Homo sapiens: one gene and its partner. The protein of the gene in region 1 purifies or fractionates together with the protein of each later gene. This does not show direct contact. Each region holds a gene or a part of one and is shown in the gene's direction. Other genes may lie near its edges.

Region 1 (6,938 bases):
GTGGTGTCTGTTGGGTTTTTTAACTGTGAAGTCACAATCTTTTCCTCTATTGTTAATGAACATGGGAGGGAGATACTTTGAGTCTATATATTCCATTTCTCAAACTTTCACCCACTAATTTTAGCATCCATTGGTGGATCTTGCCTGCAACAGTACTACTGTGGGTACTACTAGTAGTGATTTTTGATTTCTCCCTTTCCTTCTACATTAATTGGAATTCATCTGTAAGGAAGAGTTGTCTTTTCTATAGATATAGATATAGATATAGATATAGATATATATCGTGGGTATCTCTTTTGTTCTATAGATGAAAGTCCAATGCCATCAATATTTATCTTGTTGCTCAAGTTATTCCAACTTTGACCACTAAGAGTTCCTTCAGGTTGGCTTCCGTGTCCTTTTGACATGACTTCATACTATTTGGAGCACTTTCTTACTTTCTGACACACAGGATGTTCCAGTATGTCATAGTGGCTTAATCCTAGTGGCTTAAGTAGCAATCTGGATGCAGCTTAATTAGGTGCTCTGCTTAGGGTCTGACAAAGCTGCACTAAAGGTGTCGTCCAGGCTGGTTCTCATCTGGAGGCTGTGCTGGGGAAGAATCTGCTTCCAAGTCACACAGGTTGTTGGCAGAATTCATTTCCTTGTGGTTCTGGACAGAGGGCTTCATCTTCTTCTTGTTGACTAGAGGCTGTCCTTAGCTTCTTGCCACACGGCCTCCTTTACAGCATGGCCACTTACTTCAAAGCCAGCTGTGGAGAATCTCTAGAGCAAGTCCTGTAGCAGGATAGAGTCTTATATAACAAAATGTCATCTCGGAAGTGAGACATCTCATCACCTTTGCCAGTGGTCTCCTTGTTTATTGTAGAGGATCTATAGTATGTTTTAATGTCTGGTAGGGCTAGTATCCTCTCATGGTTTTTCTTTTTCATTGTTTCCCTCACTGTTCTTGAATGTTTGTTGTTACAAATGAATCTTAGGATGGTATTGACTTGTCTGGCTCGGTTTCATAACCTTGGCACTGTTGACCTTTGGGGCTAGGTATTTCTCTTTTATGGGAGGCTGTCCTGTGTATTGTAGGATGTTTAGCTGTATCCCTGACCTCCATCCACTAGATGTCAGTAGCACCCTCACATTTATAACAACCAAAAATGTCTCCATATGTTGCAAAATTTCAACTGGGAGGCAAAAGCATCCTGAGTTGAAAACCACTGGTCTATAAGTATTTAGTTTTCTTTGTTGCTATTATATATGGACATGTAACTGATGCCCAATGTTGTTCGTATATATGAAAGCTGTTGAATTCTGTGTCAGTTTATATCTTGTTACTTTCTGAACTCTGTTATTCTCTTATCTCACTGATTGTCTTGAGTTCTCCAGGTATAGTATGATATCATCTGAAAATAGAGATAGTTTTACTTCATTACCCTGTTTGTATGCCTCTTACTGTTTTTATATTAGCATTGGCTAATAACTCAGGTACAATGTTAAAATAGTAGCAGGAATAGTAGGCATGCTTGCCTTGTTCCTGATTTTAGTAGAAATGCTTCTGTTGAAGTATTTTTGTCTCTCCATTAAACAAGATACTTGCTGTAGGATTAAGATATGTACATAATTTACTAAGAAAATGCCCCTTGATGCCTATTGAGTGTTTTTATCATGAATGATTGTTGAATTTTGTCAAAGGCTTGTTCAGCATTTATGAAGATAGTAATATACTTCATTTACTTACATGTATTAACATGGCATCTGTTGATGAGTTTTCCAGTACCGAACTAACCTTGCTTTCCTGGAATAAATCTCACTTGATCACGGAGTATGTTTTTCATAATGTGATGTTGAATTGAGTTTGCCAAAATATTTTGTTTAGAATTTTTATATCAACATTCATAACTGATGTGAGTCTATAGTTACCCACCTTTGAATTGTCTTTATCTGGCCTAGGTATCATATTAAGGGAATCAAGAAAGTCACCATCTTGGTTCCTTTAATGAAATAATTTATATTTCATTATAATTTATAGTGCATTATAATTTATGTTTATAATTATTTGTATGTTATATACTTATATAATTTTAGAACAGTGGGACTCTCTGGTTTTTGTAAGTTTGTTAGCATCCCCCTCTGAAACCATCTGGACCTAGTACTGTTTTGTGTGGGATAGTTCCTTAATAACGTTGACTGTTTTTTGTGTGTATGAAAATTAGTCTGTTTAAGCTTTTTTGCTGTAATGGGGTCAATTTTTGTTATTTGTATTTCCACAGGAAATTATCCATTTCATCTAAGATTTCAAATTTATTTGCATAAAAGTCTGCAAAGTATCTTTTATGAATTAGACATGTAAATTAATTTTAAATCTTTTTTCCCATAATTATTTTACCTATATCATTTATTATTTTTTGTGTTTGTTCTTTTTCTCTTTTTCTTGATCAAATTAGGTAGTAGTTTATTTATTAACTTTTCCAAAAAATCAGTACTTTGATTTACTAATTGGATCTATTTTTCTGTTCTCTACTTCACTGACTTCTGCTTCATATTTATTATTTCCTTCTTTGTGTTTTCTTTGATTTACTTTATTATTGTTGTTTTCCCATTAAAATTTATTGTTTTTATTCTTTCATTTATATAGATAACAGTGTTTTATGGACAGGCACAGTGGCTCACACCTGTAATCCCAATACTTTGGGTGGCTGAGGTGAGAGGATCACTTGAGCCCAAGAGTCGGAGACCAGCCTGGGCAACACAGGGAGACGCTCACTCTACAAAAAATTTAAAAATCAGCCAGGCACATTGGCATGTGCTTGTAGTCCCAGCTGCTACTAGAGAGGCTGAGGTGGGAGGATAGTTTGGGCCTGGTAGGTCAAGGCTGCAGTGAGCCATGATTGTGCCACTGCACAGAGAAAGATCCTGACTCAAAAAATTAAAAATAAAAATAAGTAAATAGAACACACACAAAAAAATTTTTTTTTAAAGTGTCTTTTGCAATCAATTTTTCTCTGATCAGTGCTTTCAATGTATCTTGATTCTGATACATAGTGTTTTCAATGTCGTTTTTAAGTTTCTCCTTTTCTTTAGGAGTTATTAGGAGGTTTTAAAAATTCCAGGTAGATGAACCTTTCTGGTTTTTTGTTTTTATTTGTAAATCTAGTTTTATTGCATTTTGGTCAGAAATTATTTATTGTAATATTTCTGCTTTATGGAAATTGCCAGTATTTTCTTTGTGACCTACTATAGGATCAGCATTTATAACTGTGCTGTGATTGCTTAGATGTATATTCTCCATAATCAAGGTCTAAAGTTTGATATATATCCATGAGATTTACTGTATTTATTATGTTGCTTAGATCTTCTGTTTCTTATTTTTTGTAAATAAGTGATCTGTTTTGTACTAAGGTTATACTAAGAGTTGTATATTAAAATCTACTGTGTCCTGTGTTTCCATGTATCTCCTGTAGTTTTTGCTTCAGAAGGGTGGTTGCTCTGCTTTTTGCTATGTAAATATCATGATTATTACTTATTCATTTTGGATTATGGCCTTTATTATATTAAAAATGTCCTCATTTGTCATGTTCAGTGCTCTGGACTAAAGACTTAAAGTCTTTAAGATATAAAGACTTTAAAAACATATTTATGAGACCTTCCTGATAACTCCTACCACTCCTATCTTCAATACCTATGATGATCATTCCATAATAGCAAGCAGCTTTAATTAGGATGTACTTTCATGGGAGCTACTAGAAGCTGTGATATACCTAGTGTATACCATTTCCAATCCAAAAAGAAGGAAGAAAAAAAAGTGGCAACTGGATGGTCATCACTCGGAATTTATACTGAATGTTGTGGCTTTTGCTTTTAAAAATTTTACCAACTAAGCTGTATAGCAAATCATCTGCATGCACTGTACATTTAAACTAAAATAGAACCTTATTTCCTTACAGCATTTTGCTGTGTTTTATTTAGAATAGGTACTTCTTTTGAAAGGATTAATTAAACTCTATCTAATTACCCAAGGCAGTGGTATCACACTGGCTCTGAAGAGGAGTACGAAGGAGTGAAAGAGACCTTTCCACCTAATCTTGTATACCTTTTTAAATTTGGGACCATGTCTATGTATTTCATCTAAAAACCACATTTACACACATGCATGTAAAATATAACTAAACTCCATAACTTGAAACATGATGTATTAGGTGCAGGAATCTACCCTCTTACTGAAAAAATAAAATTATTGGGTAAAATACTAAAAAACATACCTTGAATGCATTTCTTAACTAATGACTATTAGCCAACCAACATTTCTTTTAGTAGGAAAGTAAGAAAAGCTCAGATCAAAGATCAAATGATAGCAGGAACTCAGAGGGGAACTGACCTTATCCTGAAGATATTTGTCTAACTAGGTGAACCTAAACATTGCATTCACAACCCTATGGGGCTAGGGACAGAAGACAAATCCTAGGGTTTATCCAAAATAAATAGTCTAATAGATCTTCTTCCATAAAGTTGATCTACTTTCTCAGTAAAAGAGCAAACTAAAAATAACCTCCCCACTAGCTTGCTCAGCCCCAGGAAATAACTTGGGTGCTGAATTAAGGAGGAAAAAAATCTTTCCTTAGAATTCATAACCAAAATACAGCCTTTATTGCAGATTATAGCTGGAATTCACAATATTTCGAAGGCAAAAAAAAAGTTAAGCTGAGGATTTAGTATAATTAGTGCATGAACTATAGTGCTCTGTTGTCTATTAGAAGCAAATATTTTGTAGGGAGTTGTCCATCTCACACCTCAACATGTTTTGCACAGCCAAAGTTCCAAGGAAAATGAAGGGCTACCTCATAGTAAAGAAAAACATTACATACACAGGGGAACAAGGTATCAGCAGAAACAGCAATCAGACACAGAATATAAAATGTTTAATGTTTCAATAAAGGAGAGGCTTGAAAATGAATGAAGATGTTGAGTGGAAAAAGTCACAGAAAAACACCTACAGTACGATTCCATTTATATAAAGATATCTATCAAACAGATAAAACCAAACAATATACTTTGTGGGAGAGCAATACACAAACGCTTAAAACAAAACTGTAAAGAAAGGAGTGATAATAGAATTCAGGATAGTGGTCCCTTTTTGGGGGAGGAGAGGGTTGTGATCAGAAAGGGGCATATTGGAGGTGTGGTAATATTTTGTTTCTTAACCTGGGTGTAGGAACATGAGCATTTACTTTGTTTTTAAATGGTATATTTTCACATGTTCTTGAACATATGCTAAATTTCTAACAAAAAGGAACTATGTAATAAACATGTAATATATAAAATCTATGTTGATTAATTTTTCTTAAATATTTGAAATGAATTATTTGAAGTACTCTGATAGTGAGAACTATAAGATTTAAGAAAAATTAGAGTATTTCAAGTATTTAACAAAGCTTATGGTTTAAGGAAACTTCTTTTCTACTGATATGATGAAACAATTTTCTTCTCCATGCTTCACAGCAAAAGCATTAATTTTGGGTTGTTATTAATCTTCCTTTTTTTCTACTTTGCAGCAAGATGAGAAGATGAAGTGAATTTATGGATTCTGGTTTTTCTGAATTTTCAAAGCATAAGGAATCAAAACAGAAATATAGTATCAAGAAGATGAAATGCTTAATGAAAAGGTTTTTTTTTTGTTTCTTTGGCCTTTCATGGAGTGTTGATTTGTCCATTCTTAATGTTTATTAATAGGTATATGTGCATAAAATAGCTATTTTGTAACATTAAACTTTTTGAGTCATTTTGGTCATCATATAACTTACCTTCCTGTTTATTTAAGCTTCTTTTTACCTAGTAGCCTTTAACCAAACAATAACCTTTTAACCAAATAAAATGTGTTAATAAATACCTTTGCATTGGTTATCTTGTATACTAGGCTGTCTTGTTTTGCTGTCTGTTTTTAACCCATTCAATATATGTGGACATCCAAAAGGGTTTAAAAGCCACCTCCTGCCCTGGCCCGTTTTCTCTCCCTTCATTCTTCTGTTTTCAGAAATACATGTTGAATGTCAGCTTCTGTATTATTTCTATTATATGTAATCTGATGACTTAGAGGAGGAGATTAACCTTTCAGGCTCTTTTGAATTTGGTTTTTATAATTTGGTTTTAAAGATCACTTACTCTTCCAGTAATAAGTAGTAATAAATCCTGTTCATATCTGAGATCAATACACAGTTTATTGAATTCAAATGACTACTCAAACTCTATTCCACCTAGATGGAAAACTTTTTTAGACAATATCTGACCACTAACGCGGTGGGCCCAGAAATCTGCATCTTAATCAGATGCTTCAGGTGAGTCCGTCCGAGGATTGTCCTAGTACCACACTTTGAGAGACTGCAGTGGGGGTACAGAGTGCTGGAGGGGTTTAGTCAATAGCTCTAGTGAAGGATGGATAGTTTTATTCAAAGAATCCCAGTTGATGAATGAAGAAGAAATGCTAGAATTAGAAAAATTGCAAACCCCTATTAAAACTACCGCTCAGGCAATGCTCAACAATGGATGTAAAACAATTAGGTGAAATGTTGATGGAGAAATTCATTACAAAGGAATAGCCCTCTGAACCCACTGATCAATGTTAGCATCATTACGAATGAAACAACCAGACACCATATGCTTCCTGCTGTGCTGCAATATTAATTATATGGTACCACCTATGAAGTGTTCTTGCCCTCTCCCCCCCAAAAAATTGAACCTGAATTTAATCAAAGCTTTAGATCTAATATTTAGTGCATAGGAAATAAGTAGAGTAGAAAAACAATACCAGGGAGAAGCAATTAGCCACATTCAAAAAATGGTTCATTTCAATAGAACAACTGACCTGGTTTCTTTTTCAATGTGTTAATAGTGTTAAAAAGTCTGTTTTAGATCAAAAGAGACTGATGAGACCACATGCAAATACATTGCAC
Region 2 (7,548 bases), on another chromosome or scaffold:
TGAAGTCAGACAGCCCTGGATTTGAAATCTGGCTCTGCCGCTTAGCAGCCTTACATCCTCTTTGAGTCCTTACTTTCCCATCTATTAAATGGAGGTAATGATATGTTTCTTACAGAGTTGCTCTAGGGATTAAATGACATGAAAGATGTTAAGTGGCTAGCACTCATACTGGCCCACAGAAGGGGATAGGTAGATGGTAACTGTTGTTATTTGTAATTGGGCGTACCTGTTTAATGCAGGAACGATGGCTTGAAAAATACTGAGAAGGGACTCAACTGGTATCATTTTCTACTTTGAATCACTGTATCTATCCAGATGTGGGCTGCAGTAGTGGATTTATGGATTGGGGAAAGTAATCGCATCATGTGTTCCCCCCTGCCCCGCCCCCACCATTAGATTATTATATTTAACAACAACAAAACTTCTGCAAAGCTGTTGAAGTCAAAGTGAACCAGTGGCTCCACCATTATCTTTTTTTTTTTTTTGAGACGGAGTCCCGCTGTGTTGCCCAGGCTGGAGTGCAGTGGCATGATCTTGGCTCACTGCAACCTCTGCCTCCTGGGTTCAAGCTATTCTCGTGCCTCAGCCTCCCGAGTAGCTGGGACTACAGGCGACTGCCACCATGCCCAGCTAATTTTTGTATTTTTAGTAGAGACGGGGTTTCACCATGTTGGGCAGGCTGTTCTCGAACTCCTGGTCTCAAGTAATATGCCTGCCTTGGTCTCCCAAAATGCTGGGATTACAGGCGTGAGCCACTGTGCCCAGCCCACTGTTATCATTAGACTATTCTTTTTAAAATTGTAATGGTGTGGGTAGCTTCAGTTAAGAAAAAAAAAGTCACAAAGATAAGGTGATGGATGTGTAATTGGCTTGAATTAGTCATTCCACACTGTAAACATGTATCAGAACATCTCATTGTACTCCATAAATGTATACAATTATGATTTGTCAATTAAAAGTAATATTAATTTAAAAAAGAAAAAAGACATCTGGGCTGTAATTGGCTGTGGCTTTTAAGATGCTGAAAGGGACCCCCTCAGTGAATTTCATACTTTTTTTTTTTTTTAACCTCAAGGCTCTAACCTAACCCCTGATTCTTATAGAATATGTTGAGGATGTAGTGATTAAAATCCAAGTTAGTGATTAAAGATGATTTTAGAGATTTTTAGGTAGAAACAATGTGTCCAAAATAGTAAGTTTAGCCTTTTAAAAAATCAGCTGCACTTTTTGTATTGTATATAAAATAGTTGCTTTATAGAATCAGAAATACAGATGTATTGAGTACTATGTGTCACTCTAGAAAGGTGACCATTTACTTATTCACATTTAAGAAGCGACTTCTCAGGTATGAAAAGCTTCAGCTGAAGCCAATTTTCTTTTTGTAAAAATCAACATTTTGTAAACATTAAAATGTCACTACATGTGCCTTAAACATTAAGGAAGATTTAATAGATGTCATTTAACTTACTCAAAAGGTTCATGAGACTGAATTACTATTATATGTAGGGTTTGGTTTGAGTCTAAAAGATAATGCAGCTTAGTTACAGAATGCTCAGACTTAGAATGCCTTTCCTTAGGATTTTAAAACTGAAATGATACCTAATTTAATCCAGTTTTATGTAGAGACACTTGATATATGTAGTGTTCTCTTTTGTTTTGAACATTATAAAAAAGAAACACCCTAGTCTTGTCTTTTCTGATTAGTGTCAAGGAATGAAGTATTTTTTCCATTGCTAACTGTTCTGGCAGTTATTGCACAATAAGTCATGTGCCTATATGTGTAATGTATATTGAGTAATCTTTATTTTTAACTGGGGCTTTTAGATATGTTATAGTTATTAAAAAATATCTAATAGGATTTGCCAAAATAATATAGGATAAATCTTATGGACATTATGTATTTTTTAAATGGAAGTATAAAAATTTGTCTACACTTTTGCACATTGTTGATACCTGAAAGGTTAATCCAAGGGAAAGTTTATTACTGCTGAGAATTAGGAAAAGAAGATATTTGGGAAGACTGTAGAAATATGAACCTAGAATCATTTTTTAAAGAGTTTGTAGAAACCTTGATTAAGTAGTCTAATTTTCCCCTCATTTTTTAGATGTGGCTAGCAGATCCAGTGAGGTTAAGTGGAATTCCAAGGCAACAAAGCTAATTCGTAGCAGAGATAGAATTAGAATCTGGGGCCAGTGTACTTTCTACTTTTCCCACCTCTTTAGATCCAGCTGAGGTTAGAACCATAGAACTGTGGATTGGGAGATCTTAATCCATTAAACATCTTTTTTGTATTTAATTTAATTTAAAAAATCAGCTGCAGTTTTTGTATCGTATATGAAATGTTTGCTTTATAGAATAAGAAATACAGACGTAATGAGTACTGTGTGTCTCTCTAGAGAGAGCATTTTAAATCCAGGCATCTTAAGCATACTGACTAACATTTGAGGACTATATATTTATCTATGAACATGAATTAGGAGAAGGAATGATAATCTGTGGAAAGTAAGAGTGGAATATTATGTTTGGATATTTAAATAACTGGCTAACAGGCATTACTGAGTTGTTGAACTACTTTTAGTATCTTTAAAAAGCAGAGGGAGATCAAGACCATCCTGGCTAATGCGGTGAAACCCCGTCTCTACTAAAAATACAAATAATTAGCTGGGTGTGGTGGTGGGCACCTGTAGTCCCAGCTACTCGGGAGGCTGAGGTAGGAGAATGGCGTGAACCTTGGAGGCAGAGCTTGCAGTGAGCCAAGATTGCGCCACTGCACTCCAGCCTGGGCAACAGAGCGAGACTCCGTCTCAAAAAAAAAAAAAAAAAAAAAAAAAAAAAGCGGAGGGCCAGGCGCAATGGCTTACGCCTGTAATCCCAGCACTTTGGGAGGCCAAGGCGGCCGGATCATGAGGTCAGGAGTTTGAGACCAGCCTGACCAACATGATGAAACCCCATCTGTACTAAAAATACAAAAATTAGCCTGGCGTTACTCAGGAGGCTGAGGCAGGAGAATTGCTTGAACCTGGGAGGCGGAGGTTGCGTTGAGCCGAAATTGAGCGACTGCACTCCAGCCTGGGCAACAGAGTGAAAATCCGTCTCAAAAAAAAAAAAAAAAAAAAAGCAGAAATAATTTTGTATTTGATTGTATTGCTTATTATTTAATTTCTTTGGAGGTAAGAATGGCAAAAACCATTTTTAAAGAAAATGGGCTGTGGTTCAAGTCTAGATGTTTTACACATCTGAAACTTGACTGGAGAAGCTAGTCTTCCAATAAGGTGGTCTTCAAGTATAGATTCTGAGTTGTGGAAAATGAGGCATCTTACAAAGGAACATCTCTACCTTCCATAAAGTTTTCTACCCTTCATCCCCGCTCCAATTATTTGTTTTTCCTTGCAGACCAAGAATCTTGAAAGCCAAATGTTCTCATTAAGAAGCTGTTAGAGTGCAATAATGCATTCTAAATGCCTGTCTTAGAAGATATTTCACAAGTTAATGGATTTTTTAAGTTTTTCAAAGATATAGTAAGTGGATGGTTACTGAACATGGATACAAAATACATTGAACCTATAAAAAAGTTACTCAAATATTATTAAAAAATTTTTTTTCTGAAATTTTTTTTGTGTTATCAAAACAATACAGGCTCATTAGCGGAGATGTGAAAAGAATAGTATAAGGTAGAAGAAGCCACTTATTTCTACCATCCAAGATTAACTACTGTCAACATTAAAAGCATTTCGTTTTTGTCTTCTTAATGTGTATATCCAGATGTCTTTTAAAAAGTTCTGAGATAATATTACTTATAATGCTTTATATTCTGGTTTAATTGTTACAGTGTATGCATTTTTCTATCTAAAACATTTTTCATGTCTTCATAGTTTATTCCATTGTGGTATGTCTTGTGGATATGCCATAACATATTTGGTAATTCCCTTATTGGACATTTGAGGGATTTTTCCTATGTTTTCCTATTGTACTCAATTTGATCTGCACTTCCTGAGGATGTGTTCCAGAGTTGGTATTTCTGGGTCAAAAACGCATTTTATGTCATATGGCCAAATTGCTTTCCAGAAAGTGTACACTCCCACTGAGAAGGTCTGAACAGTTTTTGTTTTTTGTTTTTTGTTTTTCCAGATAGAGTCTCGCTCTTGTTGCCCAGGCTGGAGTGCAGTGGTGTGATCTTGGCACACTGCAACCTCCACCTCTCGGGTTCAAGCAATTCTCCTGCCTCAGCTTCCCAAGTAGCTGGGATTACAGGTGTTTGCCACCTCGCCCAGCTAATACTGAGCAGATTTCATATATAAAGTTGGACTTTGGTTAAGCACTTTGTCCTCTGGTATTTTTTAGGACAAACATAGTTTTGTTGATGAAGTAGAACGGTATTTTAAAATTATCCTATTAGATACTGCTCTGTTTGTGTTTAATATATTTTAAGAAGTTCCTTTTTATATTTCAGCAACTGCCAAGACTGATAACTATAGAGAACATAATTCTTTCTGAGACAAGTTCTTGCTCTGTTGCCCATGCTGGAGTGTAGTGGCATGATCATGGCTTATTGCAGCCTCCACCTCCTGGGCCCTGGCTCAAGAGATCCCCCCACCATAGCCTCCCAAGTAGTAGGGACCACAGGCGTATGTCACTACGCCTGGCTAATTTTTTTAAACAAGATTTTTGCTGCTGGGTGTGGTGGCTCACGCTTGTAATCTCAGCATTTAGGGAGGCAGAGACAGGAGGATTACTTGAAGCCAGGAGTTGAAGACCAGCCTGGGCAACATAGTGAGGCCACATTCTCCACATTCTCTCTCTCTCTTTTTTGTTTTTCAGACAGAGTCTTGCTCTATCACCCAGGCTGTAGTATAGTGGCATGATCTTGGCTCACTGCAACCTCTGCCTCCTGGGTTCAAGTGATTCTCCTGCCTCAGCCTCCCAAGTAGGTGGGACTACAGGCACGTGCCACCACACACAGCTAGTTTTTGTATTTTTAGTAGAGACAGGGTTTCACCATGTTGGCAAGGCTGACCTCGAACTCCTGACCTCAGGTGATCTGCCTGCCTTGGCCTCCCAAAGTACTGGGATTACAGGCGTGAGCCACTGCACCTGACCAAGGTCATATTCTCTTAAAAAAAAATATATATTTTTTTTTTGTAGAGACTTCATCTCACTGTGTTGCTCAGCCTGGTCCCGGAACTCCTGGGCTCAAGAGATTCTCCTGCCTCAGCCTCCCAAAGTGCTGAGATTACAGGCAGGAGCCACCACGCCTGCCCCTGAGAACATAGTTCTTTTTTGTTGAGCTTCCCAGGCAAGCCATGTAAATATAAATACAGCTCATCCCCTTTACTTATCATGCTGCTATTTTGTTTTAGAAGTATTGGTAGATTGCATATTCCATAACCCTGATATATTTCAGTATAATCCTTACCTAATCTTGGACCTATTATAGTGGGATGCTGCTTGCTTGCTTGTGTGTGTGTGTGTTTTTTTTTTTGGCGGGGGGATGGAATCTTGCTTTGTTGTCCAGGCTGAAGGGCAGTGGCATGATCTCGGTTGACTGTAACCTCTGCCTCCTGGGTTCAGATGATTCTCCTGCCTCAGCCTCTCCCCAGTAGCTGGGATTACAGGCTTGCGCCACTACGCCTGGCTATTTTTTGTATTTTTAGTAGAGATGGGGTTTCGCTACGTTGGCCAGGCGAGTCTTGAACTTCTGACGTCAAGTGATCCGCCCGCCTCGGCCCAGGCATGAGCCACCACGCCCAGCCTATGAACCTATATTCTTACTTCAGTATGCAAAATGTAGCATAATGTTAAGAATGAGGTTGCTTAAAATCTAGGCTACACACATAGTTAGGCCTGCCTTTTCTTCGCTCTTTTCTTTTTTTTCTTTTTCTTTTTTTGTTTTTGAGATGGAGTCTCACTCTGTCATCCATGCTGGGAGTGCAGTGGCACGGGGATTCAAGTGATTCTCCTGCCTCAGCCTCCCGAATAGCTAGGACTACAGGCACCCGCCACCACGCCCAGCTAATTTTTGTATTTTTAGTAGAGACGAGGTTTCACCATGTGGGCCAGGCTGGTGTCAAACTCCTGTGATCTGTCCGCCTTAGCCTCCCAAAGTACTGGGATTACAGGTGTGAGCCACCGTGCCCGGCCACCATTTTCTTGAAAGCTCATTTTGTCCGGAGAATGTTTTAATGCCAATACATGGACTTCATCATTTGTAAATAGTTCTTATCAGAGGAAAATCTAGGAAAAGAAAGGAAACCTACATTTCTCTCCTTCATAATTTAGCTATTTCGTTTCTAGCTTTTGGCAATCTTATTTCAATAAAAAAATTAAAAAATTTTTTTTTTTTTTGAGACAGAGTCTCACTCTGTCACCCAGGCTGGAGTGCAGTGGCGCGATCTCGGCTCACTGCAACCTCCGCCTCCCGAGTTCAAGCGATTCTCCTGCCTCAGCCTCCTGAGTAGCTAGGGTTACAGGCGCACGCCACCATGGCCAGATAATTTTTGTATTTTTAGTAGAGACAGGGTTTCACGATGTTGGCCACACTGGTCTTGAACTCCTGACCTCAAGTGATCCACCCACCTCGGCCTCCCAAAGTGCTGGGATTACAGGTGTGAGCCACTGCACCCAGCCTACCCGTTTCTTAAAAATATTAAATTGACGTTACAGGTTTTCATTAACCCTTATATGAATATTTTGGTTACTGCCATTATTTTCTACTCTTAAGTGACTGAAATGTTTAACTTTGGTTTTTGTCTTTTTTTCAGAGTTCCGGTAATTTCAGAAATGAAATGATTTGACTAGTTTTATCCTTTGAATTTTTCTGTCATTCTTTCCTTTTTTTGAGACAGGGTCTCACCCTGTCACCCAAACTGGAGTAAAGTGGCATAATCATGGCTCACTGCTGCCTCAACCTCTTGGGTTCAAGCAGTCCTCTGCCTCAGCTTCCTGAGTAGCTGGGGCTACAGGCATGTGCCGTCATGCCCAGCTAATTAAAAAAATTTGTTTTTTTGTAGAGGTGGAATCTTGCTGTATTGCTCAGGCTGATCTTGAACTACTGGGCTCAAGCTGTCCTCCTTCCTTGGCCTCCCAGTGTTGGGAGTACAGGCATGAGCCTGTACTGTGCCTAAGTCCTCCCATCCTTTCTGTAGTAGGTATTGCCCTAAGTTAGGATTGATCATATTCCCTATGATCATCATTATTATTTTTTTTTTTGAGGCAGAGTCTCACTCTGTCTCCCAGGCTGGAGTGCAGTGGCGCGATCTCGGCTCACTACAACCTCCGCCTCCCTGGTTCAAGTGATTCTCCTGCCTCAGCCTCAGGCTCTCCCCACCATGCCCTGCTAATTTTTTTGTATTTTTAGTAGAGATAGGGTTTCACTATGTTGGCCAGGCTGGCCTTGAACTCCTCACCTTAGGTGATCCACCTGCTTCGGCCTCCCAAAGTGCTGGGATTACAGGCGTGAGCCACTGCGCCCGGCTCCTCTCATTATTTTTAACCATCAGAAATTATCTTGTTCTCTTGTTTCTAATAGTCTGTCCCTTTTCACAGAGCCA

Evidence for each region. The genes of interacting proteins can lie anywhere in the genome.
Region 2: the proteins of SGO2 (region 1) and ARL8B purify together in Homo sapiens (affinity purification with mass spectrometry; 3 studies listed by BioGRID and IntAct, with this or other methods). This does not show direct contact.

Annotation. Positions count from the first base shown.
Region 1 is NC_000002.12:200,577,906-200,584,843, forward strand, and holds the end of SGO2 (shugoshin 2), read left to right. Parts: intron 1-2,629; coding exon of another isoform or gene 2,630-2,633; exon of another isoform or gene 2,634-2,763; intron 2,764-5,543; coding exon 5,544-5,559; 3' UTR 5,560-6,191; downstream 6,192-6,938. UniProt on the Homo sapiens protein: Cooperates with PPP2CA to protect centromeric cohesin from separase-mediated cleavage in oocytes specifically during meiosis I. Has a crucial role in protecting REC8 at centromeres from cleavage by separase.
Region 2 is NC_000003.12:5,125,066-5,132,613, forward strand, and holds part of ARL8B (ADP-ribosylation factor-like protein 8B), read left to right. Parts: intron 1-3,394; exon of another isoform or gene 3,395-3,750; intron 3,751-7,548. UniProt on the Homo sapiens protein: Small GTPase which cycles between active GTP-bound and inactive GDP-bound states.